Linked DNA regions of Homo sapiens. The protein of the gene in region 6 purifies or fractionates together with the protein of the main gene of each other region. This does not show direct contact. Each region holds a gene or a part of one and is shown on either strand. Other genes may lie near its edges.

Region 1 (3,500 bases), on a different chromosome or scaffold from region 6:
AAAAATACAAAATTAGCTGGGCGTGGTGGCACATGCCTGTAATCTCAGCTACTCAGGAGGCTGAGGCAGGAGAATCACTTGAACCCGGGAGGCGGAGGTTGCGGTGAGCCAAGATCATACCATTGCACTCCAGCCTGGGCAACAAGAGTGAAACTCTGTCTCAAAAAAAAAAAAAAAAAAAATTGCATCTCACTTGGCTGGGCACAGTGGCTCACAACTGTAATCCCAGAATTTTGGGAGGCCAAAACAGGAGGATCACTTGAGCCCAGGAGGTTCAAAACCAGCAAGACTCCATCTCTACTAAAGAAAAAAAAAAAAAACAAAAAACAGCTGGGTATGGTGGCAAGCACTTGTAATCCTAGCTACTCAGAAGGCTGAGGCAGGAAGATCACTTGAGCCCAGGACATCAAGGCTGCAGTGAGTTGATTTTGCCACTGCACTCCAGCGTGGGCAACAGGGCAAGATCCCGTCTCCAAAAAAAAAAAAAAAAAAAAAAAAAAAAAAGGTCAGGCATGGTGGCTCACGCCTGTAATCCCAGCACTTTGGGAGGCTGAGGCAGGTGGATCACGAGGTCAGGAGATCGAGACCATCCTGGCTAACACAGTAAAACCCCGTCTCTACTAAAAATACAAAAAATTAGCCGGGCGTGGTGGTGGGCACCTGTAGTTCCAGCTATTCGGGAGGCTGAGGCAGGAGAATGGCGTGAACCTGGGAGGCGGAGCTTGCAGTGAGCCGAGATCATGCCACTGCACTCCAGCCTGGGCGACAGAGCGACACTCCGTCAAAGAAAAAAAAAAAAACATAAAAAGTAAAAATAAGATTCCATCTCACCTGGCCGGGCACAGTGGCTCATGCCTGTAATCCCAATACTTTGGGAGGCTGAGGGGTGAGGATCACTTGAGACCAGGAATTCAAGACCAGCCTGAACAACATAGCGGCAACCTATCTCAAAAAAAAAAAAAAAAAAAGCCTGGCATAGTAGAGTGCACTAATACACCCAGCTATTCAGGAGGCTGAGGTGGGAGGATCACTTGAGCCCAGGAGTTTGAGACTGCACTGAGCTGTGATCTTGCCACTGCACTCCAGCCTGGGCAACACAGCTACACTCTGTCTCAAAATAAATAAATAAATAAATTGCATGTCACCTTCTCCCCACCTGCATTACTTAACAGGCCTGGGAGTAAGACTTTGGTAGGTGCACCATGATGGGTGCCACAACCTCGACAGTATGCAATTGTCAGGTTTTGAAGGAGCTGGCTGCAGCTGAAACCGCCGGAGGGTTCTAAACAGTGAGGCAACATGATCCACCTTATATCATAACAGGATCTCTCTGCCTCCCACGCTGAGAACAGGCTGAAGAGAGCCAGGGCAGAAGCAGGGAGACTGGCATCCAGGCAGAGATAGACGATGGCACAGGAGAGCTGGGTGGGGGTGGTGGAAGGGAGGAGAATCTATCTACCTTGAATCTGTCTTGAAGGTAGAGCCACCGGGGTTTGCTGATGGGTCGGGTATGGCCCTGAACCTCCCCAAACCCTCTGGGACCCTGCAAGGAGTGGTCCTTTCTCCCACAATGGGGCTCCAGCTCATGCAGCATCCACAGGTCTACTGACCTGCCCCAAGGACAGAGCCCCACATGGATGGCATTTCCCCAACATTTAATCAGGAAAAAACATTCCATGAACAAAGAAAAACTCATGCAACTAAAGAGGAGAGAACGGGGGGTCTGGGACTGTCAGACAGGGCCAGATTCCTCAGAGGAGGCAGAAGACACAGAGTAGTAAGGCACGGCCGCCTTGGCCCCACAGGGCGGGCACTGGACGGAGCGGGCGCTGAATGGGGCGGCTGAAGGAGTCGGAGCAGGTGCAGACAACACTGAGGACGTTTGGCAGTAGGCTCAGGAGGAGGAGCGTTCTAGGGCCCCCAGGCCCAAGTCAGGCCCTGGCACAAGCCTGAGTCCAGCCCTCCAGGTGCTCAGAGAGAATAGGGCCCCGAGATGCTTGAGGGGGACCCTGTGGTCCAGCGTGGCACAGCCACAATTCTGAGGAAGCTTTGGAGGCCTCACCCCAAGTGCTGCTGGTACCGTGACCCCGCCTTGGAATGGGTGGGGTCAGCCATGGCAAGGGTGAGGTGCCAGAGGCCAGACCGAGGCTGATAATGCTACACAAAGGAGCCCAGACGGGTGGCAGGGCCCAGGACAGCTCAAGAAGAGGCAGGTGAGTGAGGGTGGCGACATCCGGTGGGGGGACACATATTTACAGATGGAGACAGAGGCGAAGTTCGATTCAATAAATAGGCAGAGGGATATAAATAGCAGGGAGGGTGGGACTGTCCCAACACCTGGGCACAGGGCAGGAGGGTGGGGGTATTGCTGCTGCTGGGGTGGGGGCTCGCCCTGTCACCCCTCCCCCTGCAGGGCCCAAAGCAAGGCACTAATGAAGGGGGCCTGGGTGTGCCGGGGGCATCGTGGCCAGGGTGACCTGCCCCACGATACCCAATCCAGGGCTCAGCCCGGGGACCCAGGCTTGAGCCAGCCACTCCCCTGGATGGGAGGACGGCACAGGACTGAGAAGCCCCCTCCTCACCGATTCCACCACCTTAGCTGTCGCTGGACACGAGGCTGATGATCTGTTCCAGTTTCTGCCGCAACTTATGCTTCCGACAAGAGGCATCTCGGTCCAGAGCCGTGAGAATCTGGGGGAGAGGAGTCCCCTGGAGCTGGGCTCTGTAGGGGGCGCAGCTCCTGCCATGCAAAGTCCCCACTTCCCAGCTGGGCTCCTCCCTCCCACACGCCTCATCCCTCCGTCCTCCCCCGCAGCCCCTGTACAAACCCACCAGCTCTCCCCAGCCCCAAATGCCCCTCCGACGACAGCACTTTCTCCTCCTCCTCTCCACAGCTAGGGTGCGGCCTGTCCCTAGAGTGACCTGGACTCTGGACTCGCCGTGCTGGATTCCCCCTCCCATTACCTCCTAGCCCAAGCCTCCCTCGCGCCAGGACCCCGTGACCCTCGCCAGACCCAGTGAGTGTTCTGCAGGTCACCATCCTTCACCAGCAGCAGCACTGGAAGATGGAGCCGGCCACTGCCACTCCCTGACCTGTGAGGGGTCCTCACTGGCTCAGGTTGCCAGACCCCACCAGGCGCTCTCAGGCATCCTCCCCGCTGGCTGCTGCACCTCCCCTCCCCTCCCCTCTTTGTGTCCTGGGGCCCTGGGCTCAGTGTTTGGGCCGCTTCTCCCTCCACACCCACTTGTGGCTTCCCTGTGAGCTCATCCAGGCTCAGGGCTTTAAATGCCATCCACAGGCTTGCAAATGTGTCCAGCCCAGACTCCATCCTAAAGTCCACACCTCTATGTCCTCCTGCCTCTGGCTATTTCTCATCACAAAGCCTGACCCATCCCTTCCAGTGCTCAGGCCCTTTAACTTTTGCCCAGTGGCCACTTTGTACCCAGCCAGTGGCTTATCTCCTGGGTCCCTCAAATTCCAGCATCTACCTGTGATCCCA
Region 2 (3,500 bases), on a different chromosome or scaffold from region 6:
AATAAATAGTTGAATCTACAGTTAATAAAGCAAAGGTACACAAGAGTACGTAGAGTCAGCTACCATTTGTGTAAGAAGAAAATGAGGGATATATGTTTGTATATGTATAAAAGGTCTCTGGAAGAAGACACATAAACCATGTAGCAGCGTTGCCTGAGCAAAGGGGAACTGAAGGACAGAATAGTATAGAAACTTATTTTTTCCTCTATACCCTTTTGTACTTTACTATTTAAAACCACAGACACATATTACTTATTATAAAAAGAAAAACCCATTTAACTTAATTTGCAAGTTAAGCAGACTAATAAAGATATACCAGAAGTCAATAAGAATTTGTAATTTAAATCCAAGAAAACAGTTCAAAGGAAAAGCTGAAATGTCAGGCAAACAGGATGGGTTAAAACTGGTCAAGCAGTCAGTATAGCACACATCAAGTGGTGGACATTAAAAATGAGTCAACTCCTTCATAAGACAGAACTTTTTATGAACTTCCAGCTTGCATAGGAATTAATACCTGGTCATAGACAGCCCAGTGTAGGCAGAAGGTGAGACACAAAAGGAGATGATACAGCAGTTGAAGATAACTATCTGAGCTTGAAGATAAAGGTAGATAACCTAACATATTACTACCATTCAACCTGATTTATACCCTACAGGTTAACAAGAGCAAAAGCATGGACTTCAGGGTTCTATCTTCAAATATCTGTCAAAGATATATAGCACCACCAGGATAGTTCTTTAAATGCAACGTGTGTGACCTAATTGTAATGGAAAGAGCCTAGAAATAGATGAGTCATTGAGGGTGTGCTTAGGAGTAGAGTGGAATAGGAAGAACAGAGCCTCAGAGCTAGAAGGGATCTTTGTCCCCAAGTTATACAGTCCAGACTTCCATACCATTCTCCCAAGGTTTTAGTCAGTCTCAACTTAAATGCCTTAGTGCTAAAGAAGGGCTACCACAGTAGACATTAGATTAACCAGAAATGCAAGAGATTACTATCTTGAAGAAACTAAAATTTCTTAGTTACAGGATACAGTAATGAAGTAAAATAATTCTTTTTTTAATCCAAGATTAGTTTCTTTGTACCACTCAGCATATTTCTAAATCACCTCTAACTTAAACTGTTGGGTACTCAGAAAATTAAAATAATAGTATTTTCAGAATTTGCCTAAATAAAAAATAACTCAAAAGGCAAATTTGCTGATATCATTTTAAAAAGATCGCAGTTCAAAACATCAACATAAAATGGCTTTGGAATTTTACCATTTCAAATTACCCGTTTCACTGCCTCACTTCTTTAGCTCAGAGAGTAAAAATACGACAAACACAGAGAACAGATATGATCACAACATAATAAGAAAATAATTAATTTAATCTTTAAATATTTGCCTTCTAAAATTAAAAAAGATTTTTGGAATCTTTTTTAATTCTGTACCCACACAGATTTTGGGTACAGGTTCTTGTTGATAAGGCTGTTTTTTAACAAGTCAAAGCACTTATGACTTAACTAATTCTAACTTCTTTTTTTTTTTTTTTTTTTTTTTTTAGACAGAGTCTCACTCTTTCCTCCAGGCCGGACTGCAGTGGCGCTATCTTGGCTCACTGCAAGCTCCCCCTCCCGGGTTCACGCCATTCTCCTGCCTCAGCCTCTCGAGTAGCTGAGACTACAGGCGCCCGCCGCCGCCCCCCAGCTAATTTTTTGTATTTTTAGTAGAGACGGAGTTTCACCGTGTTAGCCAGGATGGTCTCGATCTCCTGACCTCGTGATCTGCCCGCCTCGGCCTCCCAAAGTGCTGGGATTACAGACGTGAGCCACCGCGCCCAGCCTAATTCTAACTTCTCAATAAAAAAATGCTATAGTAAACTGACATAGTATAACTTCATTAATTCCAAATTAAGAATTTTAAAAAAGAAACCTATAACAAGTAATATTACTAAATATGAAAAGCTATTGCTGTCATTTCCATGGTATGAGAAAGAACCAAAAAAACCCTTTAATCTCTATTCTAAAAGAAGCTAAAACAAACAGACACTATTTTTTCTGTTATGCCAGAAATATAAATACTGTCCCTAATAAGTAAAATTCTATTTTAATTGAACTTATCACAAGAAAATTTGACCTATAAATTATCTGTTAGTCGAGGGCAATTATCAAAAGTAAAAATCAAACAACAAAAAATCCCTAAAATAGTTTATACCACCATCCAATATAAGGATAGGCACTTGGTATACAAGCAATGCTTCCTAAATTAAATACAGATAAAAGCAATGCCATGAGTACTACAGATGAAAAGTCTAAGAAATGGATCTTTTGGAGAGTCAGAGAAAAAATAAATGTTTTAATTCAGATTCTATTTCTTAGAATCCTAAAGTAAAGCAAATATATGATTTCCCCGTTTATAACAATTTAGAAACAAGCAACTCAAAAAATCTCATCAATACAAAACAAGTAGTTACATATGAATTATTTTTCCTTTGAACCTCAGAAATTTTTCATTCAGTTAGTTAAGATTTAAATAATGACAAGGTATTCTAATCCTCTAAGTGTCCATCAGTCATATTTATTTGCTTGTTCACATCTGAGTGAATACTCTGTAATGTCAGAGAAGCCAAATACACAAGGGGTGGACAAGTGGATTATAGGAATCACAGCAACCTAACATCTTACTGATAACATAGGGGCGCTAACAGTTCCCAATCATTTCACATGTTGTAAGTAATACCTATTTTAAAACACTGGATTACAATTACACAATTATATTTATTATAAAGCTAATTCTTATTATCAGCTAATGAAAATAAAATCTAAGCAAATCTACCTGAAGATATCAGGGCTGGAATATTGTCTTTCTTCTATCTTGCGCTCTATTAAAGATACCAAAACTCCACAAACTCAAGGGTTAGGATGAAGGAGGTGATCACACAAACATAAATAAGGTAATTAACCTAGAACAAATGACATCTCAGACATTCTGAGTAATCTACTGTACCAAAGCTCATGAAGACCCAGAATAATTTACTGCCTTTTGAGAGTTTACACAAAACATGCCAAAAGATATCAATGGATCTTTAAGAAGTGCTTTACCAGAAAATACACCACATAATATATTTATTTAAATCATACTAAACAAATTTATTTTAAAATTAATATACCATATATAGTACTGAAGAATAATCTCTAGACCAAGTCAGTATTTATACATCCACTTTTTTAAAATATGAAAATTTTAAATATTCTATAAAGAAAGCCAACATATACATTTTAATGTTTTTTAAAAATTATTTCTAAGGACTTCTAGGTAGTTTTTAACTACTATGTGAAGATTGAAAAATATATCCTAAAACATTCATACCTGATCGAAAGCACTCAATTATTTGTTGAATACCAGATTTGGATGTCTGTAGTGGTTGCTGTAACAAAGGAGGATCTCCAGGTTCCAGGATATAAACTACATGGAAGACAAACACCCACCCCAATCCCCACAAAAAAAGGGTTATTTAA
Region 3 (4,112 bases), on a different chromosome or scaffold from region 6:
TTTTACTTAGCATATGAGTGACTTTTTTTTTTTTTTTTTTTTTTTTTGAGATGGAGTCTCGCTCTGTCGCCAGGCAGGAGTGCAAGTGGCATGATCTCGGCTCACTGCAACCTCCGCCTCCCGGGTTCAAGCAATTCTTCTGCCTCAGCCTCCCAAGTAGCTGGGATTACAGGCACCTGCCACCATGCCTGGCTAAGTTTTGTACTTTGGTAGAGACAGGGTTTCACTGTGTTGGCCAGGCTGGTCTCGAACTCCTGACCTCATGATCCGCCTGCCTCAGCCTCCCGAAGTGCTGAGTGACATTTTTAAAGATTGAGAATACTATCTTTTAGAGAGTATATAAAGAAACACACATGTTTTGGACAGAAATTCCATGTGGTAGGGCTGCTCCGGAGACATTTCCAATCTCTATCAAAATTTTAAATGTGCATAGCACTTAAACCAAGAAGTTTTCTGCTTCTGAAAATGTATCTTATGATGATAATATTAATGAGCAGTTATACAAATGTAAAAAGACACGCATGAACTGCACATGGTAGCTTACCGTACACATACAGTATTATAGCAAAAAAGTTAGAAACCTTCATTTCTAAGTTAAAAGTTAGTGTTAAGTTACTAGTAGGAAATCAGTTAATTATAATGTAGCTATGCCTTGCAGCTGCTGAAACAGATCACATATAAGTGCTCAGTAAATATTAGCTAGCATTATTTCTATTAGCATTAAAATAGAAAGGCAGTTGTGATATCTGTGTTATTCCAGTAAAGCCACACATAAAAGAACAGGTTCTCATATTGAAGAATACATATTGGCAATGACGAAACAATAGTTTAGAAATTAGAATGCCATACACACTTAGTTCCTTCCCCTGTGAATCTCATTTTTCATAGGATCATAATGAAATAAGCTTTGCACTAATGCAATTTTTATTTTTCAATAAGGTAGCATATTAACCATCCCTATAAGAGAATTGGGTTTTATAGACTTTTTTATGTCATTTTATATATTTTTTAGTTGCATGATGATGGCTTCTAGATACTGTTGGACTAAATAGTGCACCCCAAATGGAGTAGGCAAACTATGCTGGCCACCTGTTTTATAAATAAAGTTTTGTTGGAACAGTCATATTCATTTATGTGTTGTCCATAGCTGCTACCATGCTGCCATGAGATTAGTGAATAGTTGTGATAGAGATCATATGGCCTGTCAACCTAAAATATTGTTTGGCCCTTTCAGTAAAAATTTGCTGTCCCCTGATATATATTAATGATGAGATGCTTAAAAACAGACTGAACATTTGCGTTGTTTGTGGCTGTGTAATATTAAAATCTGATTTTTTAAAAACATCTTTTTTAGAGGCCTTGGCATGAGTATGAGCACAACTTTCAAATTATGTATAAAGTGGGGATGGGACATAAGCCACCAATCCCTGAAAGATTAAGCCCTGAAGGAAAGGACTTCCTTTCTCACTGCCTTGAGAGTGACCCAAAGATGAGATGGACCGCCAGCCAGCTCCTCGACCATTCGTTTGTCAAGGTTTGGCAGATTACTGGATAGTCTTTTTCATGTTTAAGTGTTTAAGTTCTGTTTTGCATCAAGACGTTAATGAAATTTTGAAACTTTAAAGTAGCTATATCTGAAGTGGAAAGGAACTAAATGTATTATTATGCCAGGGATTTTTGTATGTGTTTTTTCATTTGGAAAATGTTCATTGAGGTTCTTCCACTTGATCTGTTTTGATGGTGCATTTAAGATACACCAGAGACAGTAAAATGGACTTTTAGATGGGACTGGATGAAAGAGTTTCCACTCTTGAGAGTGTATAGTCTACTTGGAGGGTCAAGACGGTAATGACTAATCATTATACTGAGAGCTGTGATAATGGTATATAAGGTTACTCAGAAGAGGAATTTAATTAAGTCAGCCAATCTCAGTTCTTTTTTCTCTAGAATGAGGTACCTTAGTTGTTTAAGAGCCACAGCCAGGTCAGAAGTGGGGGAGGGGGCATGGAAGACAAAGTAAAGAAACTTGGAAACGCTCACCCTTCCGGGAGAGTGGGATGGTCACAGAGCCCTGTGTAGGTAGATCCTGGTGAACACAGGATGTGGACAAGGGCAGGAAGATAAGGCTAGAACAGTAACCAGGAGCAACATGAAGGAGTTTCCATTTTATTATAAACATAAATGATGACATAGAGTTTTAGAAAGATCACTCTAGAGGCAAAGGAATTGAGAAGGTTCTGATACAGCCAAGGGGTTGGGAGAGGGCGTTCCGGGTGAGTGAACAGCGGCATTTAAGAGTTAGAGTGCCGTGGCTGACCCCTGATTGGATGTGAAAGGTGAGTGAGGGGAGGAGTCTAGAGTGGCTCCCAGGTTTCTGGTTTGTGTCATCAGGTCACAGACTCTATTTGCCAGGGTAGGGAAAGAAGCAGCTGGGTGAGGGGTGGGTCGGGAGGTGGTGGGTCCTCTTTGGTGGATGAAGCTTGGGGTACATTTGGAGCATCTGCTTGGAGATTTCACATGGGCATTTGGATACCTGGGGCTGGCACTCAAGAGGGATTTTGGGTAGGGCACAGGTGTGGGAGACAGAAGTATTGCTGGGAGGGTCCACAGAGGACAAGGGGATGAGAACAGAGCCCTGGAGAAAAGAGCCTTGCAAGGGCCCTGCAGGAGAGAGTCCCTGGGAAAGGAAAGGAAGGGGCAGAAGAGTGGGGTGATGCTCTTATTGGTAAGTGGGAGTAAGGGGCAAGCAGCAGGATCAGCTATGGAGACATTAGGGATTTGTAATTAAATAACAATTTATGTCTTAGTTATGAAGTGCATAACAATTTATATTGACCTGAGAGTGCATATAGGCGTTTTAGAAAATGCTTTCATTAGTCAGTTCCCAGGCTTAACTTTAGAGCAGTAACTTACCTCTGCCATTGTTCATTACATTTCTTAAGCCTTGCCCTCTGTGCCCAGTACAGTGCTGGGAGCATCAGGATGAGTGGATGGGGCCTTCCCCGTAAGACTCATACTGCGCGTATGCACAAGCACACACCTGGCTCTGCAAGAGCTCAGCTCTCTCCTGCTTCCTCACAGGTTTGCACAGATGAAGAATGAAGCCTAGTAGAATATGGACTTGGAAAATTCTCTTAATCACTACTGTATGTAATATTTACATAAAGACTGTGCTGAGAAGCAGTATAAGCCTTTTTAACCTTCCAAGACTGAAGACTGCACAGGTGACAAGCGTCACTTCTCCTGCTGCTCCTGTTTGTCTGATGTGGCAAAAGGCCCTCTGGAGGGCTGGTGGCCACGAGGTTAAAGAAGCTGCATGTTAAGTGCCATTACTACTGTACACGGACCATCGCCTCTGTCTCCTCCGTGTCTCGCGCGACTGAGAACCGTGACATCAGCGTAGTGTTTTGACCTTTCTAGGTTCAAAAGAAGTTGTAGTGTTATCAGGCGTCCCATACCTTGTTTTTAATCTCCTGTTTGTTGAGTGCACTGACTGTGAAACCTTTACCTTTTTTGTTGTTGTTGGCAAGCTGCAGGTTTGTAATGCAAAAGGCTGATTACTGAAATTTAAGAAAAAGGTTCTTTTTTCAATAAATGGTTTATTTTAGGAAAGCTCAGTTATATTGTCTTTTAATGGTTAACACTTATGAGCCAACGCAGTATGATACAGAAGTCTGTCATTTTCACTCATCTGTTCCTCAAAAGGAGGAGCACAATCACGTGTGCTAAAGATGGTCACTGGGTTCGGCGTCTCTTTAGGATCGCCTCGCTGAAAAGCAAAGGAAATAAATGAAGCAACACTAATGACGTAAGGTGGTTCCTTTTAAGTAGTTTCTATTAACCAGCAAGTTTATAACAGATACAAGTTTAAGCCTTGTTATCACATGTTGGGAGTTCACTTTATTTTTAAACCAAGATGTTTAGGTGCTAGGTCAGTGTAATTACTGCTGAATGATCTGATGAGAAAGCATCTTTTTCAGAAGTAAACATTTCAGCATTTAGCTTTCCAAAACAGCCCAAATTATACATCATTGGTGTTTTTTTTGTTTTTGTTTTTGCTATTAAATTTTTTAAAAAGATTGACCATAGAGCTTCCTGAAATCTTTTTGGAA
Region 4 (3,500 bases), on a different chromosome or scaffold from region 6:
GCTCAGAAAGGCCCTACTGCCACCCTGTGGTCAGGAAGCCTAAGGATGACTTTCTTACAGGTGAAAGACATACGAAGCCACAATGATTTAAGGAGAAACTGTCAGGCACTTTCCCTATTTCTACCAGGATAGGGCCTACAAGTGCCATTTCCAACACATGACCCGCAGGATATAGTTATGGGCCCTTTGTCTCCTCTTCTTATCCATTTTCCTCACCGAAACTGGATTCATTATTATGGTTATAAAGTTGTCTCAGATTTCAAAGCTCTTCATGTGAAAAGTCATCCAATCACAATTGAAGCAGCTCTTACAAATGACCTCAAGATTCTTGCCCCAGCAAGTAAAAAGTTAAAAGACCTTTCTTACCTTGGGAAAGCCATACTGACATTTCCCACCACATTGGAGACTTATGTATGCCCTCAAGAGCAAACAAAAATAACACCAGCTACAACTCAGTTTCCTTCAACTGAGTTCTTCCCAACTCTGTTATTAAGATGGACATAAACCTCCTCCTATTTTAAAAAAAGTTTACGCCTATCCTCTTGCTAGCCTTTGCCAAGCCTTGTTGCAAACCCTTCACAGGGACAAGAATAAAAATCAAGAGTCAAGAGTCACAGGCTGCTCCACGTTTCCACTCTAAGAATGGGGTAAGTGGCAATATGTGATGAGAGGGAGAGAACAACCCTTTCTCCCCAACACAGGACTGGTAGGGAAAGAGGTAGGAGCAGTGTACCAGCTACTCCTCATCTGAGTTCTTCTCTTAGGGGTGAATTACAGCTTCAGGCACACACTATTCATGACCACCACAGCAAAGTGGTAGAGAGCACAGAAGTAGCCACAGGTTGTGCCAGTAGGCATTACTATGTTCATATGTACCCTTCTACAAGGTGCCCAAGGCTTGCTGATACTTCCTGTAAACACAGCAGCACTATAAATACTTACAGTGTGTTCCACGTATTCTTTTCCTGCCTGAATTACATCCAGGGCCCTCTTCTTTTGCTCCTGATCCAGTAGCAACTTGTAAGCTTTGTCCACAGCTAATGCAAAACATTGAAATTAACTGTTTCTGCAAACACCCTCTGAAAGTCTGAACTATACTCAGGCAGTGTAAATGGACTTGTGCTCTCTAAAGCATTCCCTACTTTAATTATTTACTGTCGTTAAACTAAGTTAAAAAAAACATTCAACTATAGCAATGACTTTCCTTAAGAGCCTTGGAAAAAATTAAATATATACTCAAGGCTAAATACACTACATCTGGATTTAATTCAGTGATAAAATTCTTTATGTTCAAAGAAAAAAAATGATCCTATGCAATAACAGTCTTTGTTGGCATATAAAAGTTTTAACAAAGCAAAGTTAAGGTCTACTTCTTAAACAACAACATTCTGCTTTGAAATGGCAACTGCTCTACTGAAAACCACAGCTTCTTGGTGACCAGAAGACAAAACTATAACAGTCTTTGCTTGATCTAGGACAAGGAACAGTTAGGCCCTGCCATTCACAATCTAATACTCAGAAGCAGGTAAATTTACAAATACCTTCAAAAGCCTTTTGTGCTCTGTCAGCATCATCTTGATTTTTGTCAGGATGCACCAAGATGGATAACTACAATAAGAGAAAAGTTGGGGTTGTCAATAAGGGAAACATTTACTAACTTCCAGCCTGCCCTGTCTCGTTACAACCAAAAGCTCTAAGGTCCTACGGCAAAAAGAGACTCTTAGCAAAAGCATTTAAAAAATTAACAAATCTCTTTAAATGCCCAGAAATACTGATCTTTAACAAAATTCAAGCACCAAAAGGTAAAGGTACAACTAGGAAACATTTCAGGTTTTAATCACAAAGTTGAGACCAAACATGCCAGGCACAGAGGCTCACGCCTGTCATCCCACCACTTTGGGAGGCTGAGGTGAGAGGATTACTTAAGCCCAGGACTTCGAGACCAGCCTGAGCAACATAGCAAGACCCTGTCTCTACAAAAAAAAAATTTTTTAATTACCCAGACATGGTGGTGGTCGCCTGTAGTCCAAGCTATTTAGGAAGCTAACGTGGGAGAATCACTTGAGCCTGGGAGGTTGAGATTGTGCCACTGCACTCCAGCCTGGGCAACAAAGTGAGACCCTGTCTCCAGGAAAAAACAAAAACAAAAACAAAAACAAAAACAAATGGAAGCCTAGCACTATGAAGATGTTGTAATAATTTGGGGGAGGAGGGAGACTGAAAGGTATCAAGTTCCTATTATGTTCCTTATGCAGGTTGAGCACCCAAAATCCAAAAGGCTCCAAAATCTGAAACTTTCTGAGTGCTAACATGATGCTCAAAGGAAACGCTCATTGGAACATTTTGAATTTTCGGATTAGGGATGCTCGACCATTATGCATTCTGCAAATATTCCAAAATCTGAAAAAATCTGAAATCTGAAATACTTCTAGTCTCAAGCATTTCAGATAAGGGATACTCAACCTGTACTAAGCACTAAGGTGGCTAAAGCAGGTATGAGACATCAACTCTCTCCTAAAAGAACTCCTAATCTAAAGCAGTTTCTCATTCTGCCTGTGCTCCAACCCTGTGAAGCTTCTGAAAAAGACAACATTCTAATTTCCACCCTCAGACCTTCTGAGTTAGTCTTTGGCATCTGCACTTTGTAAACCTCTACTAGACTGGGTTTCAGATGATCGTAGGGAATTAGCCCTTATTTTGTTAGGTGGGATAAGTGATTATGCAAGAAAATGTCCTTTTTTTGGGAAGGGTACAAGCTGAAGTATTTAGGGGTAAAGCATCATGGTTTATTGCAATTTACAATGATTCAGCCAAAAATATATAGTTAAATATATAGTCAGTGTCTGCCAGGAGCAGTGGCTCCCGCCTGTAATCCCAGCACTTTGGAAGGCTGAGGCTGGCAGATCACTTGAGGTCAGGAGTTCGAGACCAGCCTGGCCTACATGGTGAAACCCCGTCTCTACTAAAAATACAAAAATTTGGCAGGCACAGTGGCACACATCTATAATACCAGCTACTCAGGACGCTGAGGCAAGAGAATCACTTGAACTCAGGAGGTGGAGGCTGCCGTGAGCCAAGATCGCAACACTGTACTGCAACCTGGGTGACAGAGCCGGACTCCGTCTCAATAAATAAATAAATATATATATATATATATATATATATATATATATATATATATATATAAATGAAATTAACTATTCAATATAGATGGTGGATACATGAATATTCGTTGTTCTATTCTTTTTTTTTTTTTTTTTTTTGAGACAGAGTGTTGCTCTATCATCCAGGCTGGAGTGCAATGGTGCTATCCCAGCTCACTGCAGCCTCAATCTCCTGGACTCAAGTGATCCTCCCACCTCAGCCTTCTGAGTAGCTGGGACTACAGGCACGGCTAATTTTTGGCTTTTGCTGTTGTTGTTTTTCGTTTTTTGTAGAGACGGGGTTTCACCATGTTGCCCAGGCTGGTCACGAACTCCTGAGCTCAAGCAATCTGCCCG
Region 5 (3,500 bases), on a different chromosome or scaffold from region 6:
TGGGTTATGCTCAGGACTCTTTCAAATGGTAACAGCTGGGACCTGTAAGGTCGAGTGTGTCAAGGCTGAAAATGGTGGCTGATCCAGGGTTCTGCTGGGTCAACAGTGGGGACACAGGGTTGGGTAGGCAACTAATCACCTCCAGGGTCCGGAGAAGGCCTGGGGCATAGACGGGAAGGGCTTTAGATCCCCAACAGACCCCACACAGACGCAAGGGTCCTGCACGTAGGGCCATGGCCTTGACGATAGAGTCAGTGTTAGCTGTGTAAGCCTCAGGCTGGACCACTGGGGAATGAGTCCCCGCTCCACTGCACACCAGCGAGGGGACATGTGACTTGTTCTCTGCACCTCATGTTTTTTCTGTAAAGTAGAAATGATAATATTGGGTCGGGTGTGGTGGCTCACACCTGTAATCCCAGCACTTTGGGAGGCCAAGGTGGGTGGATCATGAGGTCAGGAGTTCGAGACCAGCCTGCCCAACATGGTGAAACTCCGTCTCTACTAAAAACACAAAAATTAGCTGAGTGTGGTGGTGGGTGCTTGTAATCTCAGCTGCTCAAGAGATTGAGGCAGGAGAATTGCTTGAGCCCAGGAGGCAGACGTTGCAATGAGTCAAGATCATACCCACTGCACTCTAGCCCTGGTGACAGAGCAAGACTCCATCTCCAAAAAAAAAAAAAAAAGAAATGATAATATTGTCCTTTTAGAGCTAACATGGGTGAAGTATCAGAATGGTAGGGATCAATGTTAGGAGGCTATTTGATGCCTCTTTTATTTAGGACTTGTCCATAGTTGGGGGGCTTCTAAAACAGGAATGCTCATGTAAAACCTCTTGACTCCAAGTGTGATAATTTACCATGTAACAGAATCAAATGAGAAAAGAATGACAGGCATAACATAATGTAAGTTACAGGCAGAACAAAGCGACACCTCAAATTTAATTTGGCCAATAAGGGCACCTGAAGGCCAGGAGAAGTGGGGCAGCTCACTGGGGGCCAGGGCATGAATGGGCTGGGGGGGATCAGACCTCTTTCCTTTGATTCAGGTAGATGACTTTACAACAGATGACACGCCAACATTCCCAGAAAGCTGAATTTATTTATTTACCATTATAAGCCAATTTTTTTCTTGTGAACTTAGGACTAGAACTCAATAGATTTAATACTCAACCTAAAGGTTTATTGAATAAATACCTTGACTATGTTCTCAACTTTATTTTATAACTCAGCGAAGTACATCCCTTGACAGAAACAAAAAACTTTTATTTTAAGAAATCTATTAAGTATTTGATCAATAAATAATTGTCAATCAATAACTGGCTAGTTTAACAAATTTTTTTGTAGAGATGGGGTCTTGCTATCTAGAGATGGGGTCTTGCTTTTTGTAGAGATGGGGTGTTGCACAGGCAGGTAGTTTCAAACTCTTGGCCTCAAGTGATCCTCCCACCTGGGCCTCCCAAAGTGTTGAGATAACAGGCATGAGCCACTGCACCTGGCCACCCTAGGAAATTTAGAGCAGCCCAAGAAAACTGCAGAGTGGGTCAGGGCCAGAGGCAGCTGGACAGGTCTTGGTGTACAAAGTGCCCCCATCCTGAAGGGGAGAGCAATGTTTTATAAGACAGCAGAGGGAAGGTATTAATAGATTACAGCGGTATTAGTCCAATTTCACACTGTTATAAAGATACTACCCAAGACTGGGTAATTTATAAACAAAGGAGGTTTAATTGGCTCACAGTTCTGCATTGCTGGAGAGGCCTCAGGAAACTTACAATCATGGCGGAAAGGGAAGCAGGCACTTTCTTCACAAGGCAGCAGGAGAGACAGAGAAGAGCCCAGGGGAACTGCCATTTATAAAACCATCAGATCTCGTGAGAACTCCCTCACTATCACGAAATGAGAACAGCAAGGGGGAAACCATCCCCATAATCCAATCACCTCCTACCAGGTCCATCCCTCAACACCTGGGGATTACAATTAGAGATGAGATTTAGGTGGAGACATAAAGCCAAACCACATCAACAGCTAAGCCTAAAATCTAAAGCTCATTATATACCACGAAATGCACATGGATTGTTTTGACCACAGCTTGACCTGTTCTCCTTACCCCGTGGTTATAGGTTTGAAGATGGCACCATCTCATTCCTTGATGTTATCGCGCTAAAACATGGATTTGACACCCTAGAGCGCCTCACAGGTCAGTGGACATTTCTATCCCTGTGGAATTTGCTCCTGTTGTGTCCTTGAGGGAGCTCTGGCACAGGTGTGATTCAGGTAAAGGAGACAGAGTCTGTGGAAGTGACTGGCACTCCATGTAGTTAAATTTGATTCCTAGTAACTTCAAAACCACTTCAGAGAGCAAGAGAATGAGGTGGGGTTTTTGGATTGTTTTTTGTTTTTTCAGCTAAAATAACATTTTAACAGGTAGAAGACATTCCAAATCAGGAGATTGCTAGCTTCACAGAATGAGAGGAGCATCCCTGGGTCCTGGGAATGGTTACAGATCCTGAGGCCTTTACCTGCTCTTGCCTTTCTGGGTCCTCCCCACTGCCCCACGGGGGAGCTCTGCCTATGAATGAGCTGATGCTCAGAGAGGTTAAACGCCTTCCAGGCCAGGGAGCTGGAAACCAGGAGGGCAAGGATTTAACCCAAGTCATACTGATGCCTAACCATGAGCACCCAACCACTGTGTCTGCCGATGGTCTTCGCATGAGGCATGATTTCTTTCCTGGCCATTGCTCTTTTGTCACAGTAATGGGACCCTTCAGTGCCTTAACCTTAGCCTTAGCCCAACATAGGGGCAGACAGGATTCACGGGAAGAGAGGGTCGCCCTGATGGCAATGCAGGGAGGTGAGTGGGCATGATCTGGGACAAACGGAGTAGTTAATAAATACAGGCAGTGAGTAGTGAGTACTTTCCAAGGAAAGATATTAACAGGGCCCCCAAACTGCAGGTGACAGTGTCTAACAGGTCCAGGTAGCTCGGAATGCAAAGGTTGACTGTACCAGTCCACAATATGGCAAACCCTGATTTTTTTCCTATGTCATTGTTCCTTTTTTAAAAAATAAAAATTGTGGTAAACTATACATAACATAAAACTTACCATTTTAACTATTTTTAAGTGTACAACTCAGTCGTAGTAAATACATTCACAATGTCGTGCCACCATCACCACTATCTATTTCCAGAACTTTACCATACCAAACAGAAACTCTGTACCCATTAAACAATAACTCTCTATTTCCTCCTCCCCTTCCAACCCTTGGAACTACTTTTTTTTCTCTGTGGATTTGCCTATTCTTGGTAACTCATCTAAGTAGAATCATACGACATTTGTCCTTTTGTGTCTGGCTTCACTTAGCACGTTTCCAAGATTCATTCATGTTGAAGCATGTATTCTTCATTGCTTTGTGTAGTGTTAAAATGATTTAAACATTAATAATAAAAACAAACAGCAAAAATATGTTTAGAGGAAAAAACATACATTTTGTGATCTGTTACCA
Region 6 (3,500 bases):
AGTCTTGACCTCCCAGACTCAAGAGATCCTCCCACCTCAGCCTCCAGAGTAGCTGGGACTACAAGCTGGTGCCACAACACCCAGCTAATATTTTTATTTTTTGTAGAGATGGGGTCTCATTATGTTGCCCAGACTGGTCTCAAACTCTTGGACTCAAGCAATCCTCCCACTTCAGCCTCCCAAAGTGCTGGGATTACAGGCGTGAGCCACCACACCTGGCCCTTTCTGTCTTTTTTTTTTTTGAGACTCGGTCTCGCTCCTGTCACCCAGGCTGGAGTGCAGTGGTGTGATCACGGGTCACTGCAGCCTCTACTTCCAGGGTTCAGTTGATCCTCCCACCTCAGCCTCCCGAGTAGCTGGGACTACAGGTGCATGCCACTATACCCGGCTAAGTTTTTGTATTTTTAGCAGAGTTTAGGTACTGCCATATTGCGCCCAGGTTGGTCTTGAACTCCTGGGCTCAAGCAATCTGCCCGTTTCGGCCTCCCAAAGTGCTGGGATTCCAGGTGCGAGCCACCACACCCGGATGCTTTCTTAGTCTTTATCGCATGTGATCTCATTGTAACACCTGAAGCCCTAGGTCAATTCTTTTTTTTTTTTTTTTTTTGAGATGGAGTCTCACTCTGTTGCCCAGGCTGGAGTACACTGGTTCAATCTGGGCTCACTGCAACCTCCACCTCCCGGGTTCAAGCGATTCTCCTGCCTCGGCCTTCTTAGTAGCCGGGACTACAGGTGTGCACCATACACCTGGATAATTTTTGTATTTTTAGTAGAGACAGGGTTTCACCATGTTGGCCGGGCTGGTCTCAAACTCCTGGGCTCAAGTGATCCACCCGCCTTGGCCTCCCACAGTGCTGGGATTACAGGCATGAGCCACCATACCGGGCCAAAGGATTGTGGTTCTCAAATGCTGGCCTCACTGGTACCTCCTTAAGTTAACCATTTATAAGGAACATAGCCTCTCAGACTGGCTTGCACCTGGAAAATTCATCAATTTGTCCTTACACATTTTATACATAAAAACAGAGGCCCATAAAGGTCAAAATTCTAGCTAGAAGTAGACGTAAGTGCCCTAAGTCCTAATGCAATACTCTTTCCTCTTCAACGCTGTGTCTCCCCCATGGGCTGGAACACAGCTCTCTCCAATCCTTTCCTCTATTCTGGAGATCGGCGAACTACAGCCCAATTCAGCCCTCCATTGCCTGTTTAGATAAGTTGTACTAGAACACAGCTGTGCCCATTTGTTTACGTACAGTTTATAGCTACTTCTGTGGTATAACAGCAGAGTTGGGTAGTTGCAACTGAGACCATACAACCCACAAAGCTAAAAATATTTACTGTCTGGCCCTTTACAGAAAAAGTTCGCCAACTCCTGCTCTATTCCATGGCAAGAGTCCGACTAGTTTGAATTTAAAATTCAGTGTGTTAGCTAGATGGAAAGAGTTTTTCAAAGTGTAATTATATCTGACAAACAATTTTTGAGTACAATTCTGTGCCAGGCCATGTGCTGTTATGGAAGTTTCATAAGTAAATTAAAAAATCATTGCCCTCCTGGGTCCCTGACCTACTCAGAGAAATTAATACAAGTTATTCAAGTAATGAGAATTACAAAGCACACTGTTACAATTGGAATCAAGTCTCTGACAAAAGCTTTCACCTGCTCTGTCAACCCACTAAGTGTGGTGTCATCTCTTAAAATAACATAAGGTATCTTTAATAGATTTAAATCTATTTAATCCTAAAAGTAACACTAGGTCAGTCTGACATATTGTGGGAAATGGTCACTCAGTAAGAAATAGCTCTGAGTTTAGGACAGAAAACTACCCATACTACATAGAAACTGTTAATGGAATTAAACCCCAAACACCTGAACTGGGAGTGTCTGCCACAACTCCTGAGAGGTCCCTCTGCCTCAGATCTACTTCTGTCAGAACAAAACCTCAAGAAACCTCTGCCTTCTGACCTGCACCAAGCTCATTTCCAGCTGCAGGGCATCTCTCTCTCTCCGAGCTGTATCCAGCTCTCCTTCCAGCCGCCGCACCTCAGACTGCACCAATGCCAACTGGTGCTGGGTCTCCCAGGCGGCCTGGGCTTCCCTCTGGCTCTTCTCCTATGAAAGACAAATCAAATGTATATACATACCTCATTTCTTATCTCCTGGTTACCTACACTCCCCAGTTCATCCTCCCAAACCCTAAAATCCAAGCTTCCCCCAGCTCCTCCCATTTGTTTTATTTCCCCATCCCTGTTGAATTTCAGTCTTTGGCCTTTCACGTATTCATTACCCCCAGCCCTTCCTGCTGGCCCTATACTCTCAACCTTGTCTCCCACACATGGCTCTCTACTCTCCATTCCTGCCTATATGTATCCCCCATATTCTAACATTCCATCCCATTCAATTATTTTGCCCTTCATCTACTCCCTAGTTCCTCAGCTCTTCCAACTGCCACTTTTACCTTCTCCCTTTCCAGCTGAGCCTGGCTCTCCTCCTGCAGCGCCTGGTAGTGTTCCTTAAGCTGGTGCTCTTGCTGGGCCCAGGTCTGCCGTTCTTCTTCTAGGGCAGCCCGAAGAGTCTCCAACTCTCGATGCTCACTCAGTTGCCCAGCCCGAGCTGCATCCCGCTCTTCCTGCAGGACACAGCACCGCTGCTGTTCTGCCTCCAACCTCAGAGTCAGAGCTTGCCTTTCCTCCTCCTACAGCCGCAGAAGAAAACCAAGCTCCTTAGTAGGCTCTTCAGAGACCAGCGATCTGCCCTCTGACCCTCATACAAGGTGCCTGCTGAGAATTATGCTCATTAAAAACACAATAATTAGGCCGGGTGCGGTGGCTCACACCTGTAATCCCAGCATTTTGGGAGGCCAAGGCAGGCAGATTACCTGAGGTCAGGAGTTTGAGACCAGCCTGGTCCAACATGGTGAAACCCCATCTCTACTAAAAATACAAAAATTAGCCAGGCGTGGTGGTGGGTGCCTGTAATTCCAGCTACTTGGGAGGCAAAGGCAGGAGAATCGCTCTAACCTGGGAGGTGGAGGTTGCAGTGAGCTGGGATCACACAACTGCACTCCAGCCTAGGCGACATCGAGCAAGACTCCATCTCAAATAAAACCAAAAGAAACCCCACAATAGTTGACAGGCGCAGTGGCTCATGCCTGTAATCCCAGCACTTTGGGAGGCTGAGGCAGGCAGATCATCTGAGGTCAGGAGTTTGGGACCAGCCTGGCCAACATGGTGAAACCATGTCTCTACTAAAAATATAAAAATTAGCTGGGCATGGTGGTGCACACCTGTATTCCCAGCTACTCAGGAGGCTGAGGCAGGAGAATTGCTTGAACCTGGGAGGCGGAGGTTGCAGTGAGCCAAGATTGTGCCACTGAACCCTAGCCTGGGCAACAGAGCGAGACTCCATCTCAAAACAAACAAACACAATAGTTGACAAGCTCATAGGATTATAATATAGTAGATAAGAGTTCCTGTTCCAGAGCCAGGTAGACCTGGGTTCA
Region 7 (3,500 bases), on a different chromosome or scaffold from region 6:
GGCTCAGGTGTACATGGACAGGAAAATTAATTTCCATGACCCAAGTAGGTGCTTAGTTAATGTTAGGTGAGCAGAAAGAAGCCCTGAGTTCAGAGACTGGATGGGAACGGTGCAGGGAAGTGGGGCTGGGATTCTGGGGCCAAGAGAGTCATCTGAAAAGCACAGAGAACTCAGACTAACAGGCCTGATGACCGATGAACGGCAGTTACTGTTGACTCAGCCAGGCACCGTGCCACGGCCTTACACGCTTTTCCCACGTCATCCTGGCAACAGGCTTAGAAGGTGGGCATTGCCACCTCCAATCATCAGCTGAGGAATCTGCAGCCCAGAGAGGAAAGGGGCTTGCTCAAGGGAAGGTGAGATCTAAGTGGTGGCACAGGACTGGAACCCAGGCCAGCCAGACTCCTACTCCAGTGCTCCCAACTTCTGTGAGACCCCAGACCTTGGGAGGCTGCAGTCTGGGCTGGAACCTGGTGTTCCCCCCAAGTCCCCAGCCCCTCGTACCAGTCAGGGTCTCCTTGGCCAGCAGCAGGGCCTGCCCCTCGGCTTCCAGCTGCTCCCGGCGGGCCTCAAGCTGGGCCAGCTGCCGTTGCACCTCAAACAGGCTGCCCTCCAGGGCTTCCTTCTCCAAGCTGCAGCACATACAGTCCCTGAGGCCCTGGGACTCAGCCTCCCTGGCCCCAGGAAACTGTGGATCTCAGGGAGTGGCCAGGCATGGGCCAAGTGCCAATCTACCTGCCTGGCCAGGCCCACACTCCCTGGGGAAGCCTGAGCCACAGCTAGGACGAGTCGGCAAGCCAGACTCCTTAGTAACTGCCCCTGGGGGCCCGTGCCTGCGTGTGGCTGGTCATGGTGTGGCCCCAGGAGGACCCCCCAGGGCGGGTTGGGCAGAGCCCAAGGCCTTACCGCAGGCGTGTGGCCTCCTCTGACAGGGTCCTGCCTTCACGCTCCGCAGCCACCAGCTGCACAGCCAGGCCAGCGTGCTCCTTGGCTAGCGCCTCCTTCTCACGGGCCGCTCGCTCCAGCGCCTCCACTTGCCGCTGGGCCTCCCGCCGGGCCTGCTCCAGCTCCTGCTCCCGCCCGCTCAGCTGCCGGGAGAGCTGGCCCCCACCCAGAGACTGAGTAGCACTCCCAGCGTCCCCCAGCTTGTTCATCGTGCAGCACCCCAACTCTGGGCCTAACCCAGTCCTGGCAGAAGGCCTGGGTTTGAGCCCAGGGTCTGCCCTGATGTGCTACATGTACTTGGGCAAGTCATGACCTTCTCTAGATCTGCAATGCACGTGTGTACAAAAACCAGGGCCCAGCCAGGTACGGTGGTGCGTGCCTATAATCCCAGCACTTTGGCAGGTGGATCACTTGAGGTCAGGAGTTCAAGACCAGCCTGGCCAACGGGGTGAAACCCTGTCTCTACTAAAAATACAAAAATTAGCCGGGCGTGGTGGTGCACGCCTGTAGTCCCTGCTACTTGGGACGCTGAGGCAGGCGAACAGCTTAAACCCTGGAGGCGGAGGTTGCAGTGAGCCCAGATCGTGCCACTGCATTCCAGCCTGGGCAACAGAGCAAGACTCTGTCTGGAAAAAAAAACAACAACAAAAACAAAACAAAATGAAACAAAAAAAATGAGGGCCCTCACTCAGCTCTGGGAGTAACAGAACCCTTGTATTACTCTAAACTTGCAGAGAAGCTGAATATATAAACCAGACCCAAGTGCAGCTGCTCGGCAGGCCTCAAGGTGGAGACCTGCACCCTGCTTCCTGCACCCCCTACCCCATCCTCTAGAGGCCCCTCCCAGAAACCTAGGCGCTCCAGGATAGACCTTGCATGAAGGTCCCTGGATCCCTGAAACATTAAGGTCTCTTCCAGATGTGATGTTCCCAAAAGTCTAAGATTCCAATTCTAAAAAGTCTCCACCTATTATTAATCTGTATCATTATTATTATTATTATTATTATTATTATTATTGAGACGGAGTCTTGCTCTGTTGCCCAGGCTGGAGTGCAGTGGCATGATCTTGGCTCACTGCAACCTCTGCCTCCTGGGTTCAAGCGATTCTCCTGCCTCAGCCTCCCAAGTAGCTGGGACTACAGGCGCGTGCCACCACGCCCAGCTAATTTTTTGTAGAGATAGGGTTTCACCGTGTTAGCCAGGATGGTCTTGATCTCCGGACCTCAGGTGATCCACCCGCCTCGGCCTCCCAAAGTGCTGGGATTATAGGCGTGAGCCACTGCGCCTGGCTGGCCCCATGTTATAGATGGGGCAACTGAGGTATGGGAGATTGGGCAGCTTGTCCAAGGTCCCCAGCTAGCAGAAGTGGGGCTGGATTTAACCCAGAAGCAGGCTCCAGTGCCTGTGACTTAACCCAGGACTGGATGCAGGGGGCTGGGAGCCCGGCCTGCCCCACATGCTCTCCACACCACCCCCACACACAGCTTTGCCCACCTGCGCTAGCTGCTCCTGCAGCTGGCTGCGCTCATGGCGCAGCGTGGGGAGCTGCTGCTCCAATGCCTCCTGGGCCTGCTCCGCCACTCGTAGGGAGCCCTCCAGGCCCTGCCGCGCCACCTCCTGCTCCAACCGCAGCTCCTCTAGCCGTTCCTGCTCTTCCCGCGCCACTGTGGCCTCCTGCTCTGCCTGCCGTTGCCGGCCCTGCAGGGCGGACTTTTCTTCCTCCAGCTGGAGGCCAGGTAGGAGTGGGGCCTCGTGAGCAGGGCGTCCCTCCCAGGACCAGGACGCCTCCTCCACCCACCCACCAGCAACAATAGCCCAGGGGAGGCTCCCAGGGAATGAGGGACAGTGCCCTTGGGTGTATGGGACACTGGGGAGGGGGAGATGAGGAGGGCCCATGGAACTTCTGTGCTTTGACGCCTAGAGGGGATAGACAGACAGACAGAGAACCAGAGACAGACAGAGAACCAGGGACAGAAAGGGAGGCAGGGGCCAAGACAGGTACAGGGCTGGGCCCGGGGTGCCTCACTGAGTGGGGAGGATGGGTGGGCAAGGCAGGTGGGCCCGCAGGTGCACAGCGTACCTGGGCGACAAGGCGGTTCAGATCCAACTTGTCCTGAGCAAGGCTCTCGTTGAGGGCGCTCAGCTTGGACAGGGAGTCCTGCAGGGAGGCCTCCTCTGCCCTCAGCTTGGTCATGGAGAGCTCGAGCTCCACGCGGCCAGCCTCAGCCTGCAGGGTCAGGCCCCGAGAAATGAGGAAAGGCAGAAAGGTCGGGAGGAGGTGAGGAGGCCCAAGAAGAGACCCAGAGAGATGGACCCTCAGAGACAGGGTAGGGGAGACAAGGAGGGGACACAGTGTGAGATGGAAAAAAAAAAATCACCGCAGAAAGCCTGCTGCTTATGAGCCATTTAAAAGCCACACACCACAGAGCTGTGCAAAAATAGCTCAAGCTGCAGGGCAGGGCCAGAGTTCAGAGGATCCCCTGAGTAGGGTCTAGGGATAGCACTGCTCAGAGCCCAGGCTGCAGCGGACAGCGCAGGCCCCCCTGCCAAGGACC

What was found.
Region 1: the proteins of CNTROB (region 6) and PLXNA3 purify together in Homo sapiens (affinity purification with mass spectrometry; one large-scale study listed by BioGRID and IntAct). This does not show direct contact.
Region 2: the proteins of CNTROB (region 6) and ZNF800 purify together in Homo sapiens (affinity purification with mass spectrometry; one large-scale study listed by BioGRID and IntAct). This does not show direct contact.
Region 3: the proteins of CNTROB (region 6) and MAP3K4 purify together in Homo sapiens (affinity purification with mass spectrometry, with the first as the bait; one large-scale study listed by BioGRID). This does not show direct contact.
Region 4: the proteins of CNTROB (region 6) and DNAJC8 purify together in Homo sapiens (affinity purification with mass spectrometry; one large-scale study listed by BioGRID and IntAct). This does not show direct contact.
Region 5: the proteins of CNTROB (region 6) and MOCOS purify together in Homo sapiens (affinity purification with mass spectrometry; one large-scale study listed by BioGRID and IntAct). This does not show direct contact.
Region 7: the proteins of CNTROB (region 6) and CROCC purify together in Homo sapiens (co-immunoprecipitation; one large-scale study listed by IntAct). This does not show direct contact.

The regions. Positions count from the first base shown.
Region 1 is NC_000023.11:154,471,781-154,475,280, reverse strand, and holds part of PLXNA3 (plexin-A3 precursor), read right to left. Parts: intron 2,692-3,500; coding exon 2,596-2,691; 3' UTR 1-2,595. UniProt on the Homo sapiens protein: Coreceptor for SEMA3A and SEMA3F. Necessary for signaling by class 3 semaphorins and subsequent remodeling of the cytoskeleton. Plays a role in axon guidance in the developing nervous system.
Region 2 is NC_000007.14:127,382,709-127,386,208, forward strand, and holds part of ZNF800 (zinc finger protein 800), read right to left. Parts: intron 3,448-3,500; coding exon 3,352-3,447; exon of another isoform or gene 2,818-3,351; intron 1-2,817. UniProt on the Homo sapiens protein: May be involved in transcriptional regulation.
Region 3 is NC_000006.12:161,113,769-161,117,880, forward strand, and holds the end of MAP3K4 (mitogen-activated protein kinase kinase kinase 4), read left to right. Parts: intron 1-1,354; coding exon 1,355-1,534; intron 1,535-3,081; coding exon 3,082-3,102; 3' UTR 3,103-3,612; downstream 3,613-4,112. UniProt on the Homo sapiens protein: Component of a protein kinase signal transduction cascade. Activates the CSBP2, P38 and JNK MAPK pathways, but not the ERK pathway. Specifically phosphorylates and activates MAP2K4 and MAP2K6.
Region 4 is NC_000001.11:28,209,030-28,212,529, forward strand, and holds part of DNAJC8 (dnaJ homolog subfamily C member 8), read right to left. Parts: intron 1,609-3,500; coding exon 1,542-1,608; intron 1,038-1,541; coding exon 943-1,037; intron 1-942. UniProt on the Homo sapiens protein: Suppresses polyglutamine (polyQ) aggregation of ATXN3 in neuronal cells.
Region 5 is NC_000018.10:36,200,997-36,204,496, forward strand, and holds part of MOCOS (molybdenum cofactor sulfurase), read left to right. Parts: intron 1-2,116; coding exon 2,117-2,193; intron 2,194-3,500. UniProt on the Homo sapiens protein: Sulfurates the molybdenum cofactor. Sulfation of molybdenum is essential for xanthine dehydrogenase (XDH) and aldehyde oxidase (ADO) enzymes in which molybdenum cofactor is liganded by 1 oxygen and 1 sulfur atom in active form.
Region 6 is NC_000017.11:7,938,706-7,942,205, reverse strand, and holds part of CNTROB (centrobin), read right to left. Parts: intron 2,694-3,500; coding exon 2,457-2,693; intron 2,111-2,456; coding exon 1,964-2,110; intron 1-1,963. UniProt on the Homo sapiens protein: Required for centriole duplication. Inhibition of centriole duplication leading to defects in cytokinesis.
Region 7 is NC_000001.11:16,945,931-16,949,430, reverse strand, and holds part of CROCC (rootletin), read right to left. Parts: intron 3,173-3,500; coding exon 3,026-3,172; intron 2,671-3,025; coding exon 2,440-2,670; intron 1,101-2,439; coding exon 907-1,100; intron 633-906; coding exon 505-632; intron 1-504. UniProt on the Homo sapiens protein: Major structural component of the ciliary rootlet, a cytoskeletal-like structure in ciliated cells which originates from the basal body at the proximal end of a cilium and extends proximally toward the cell nucleus.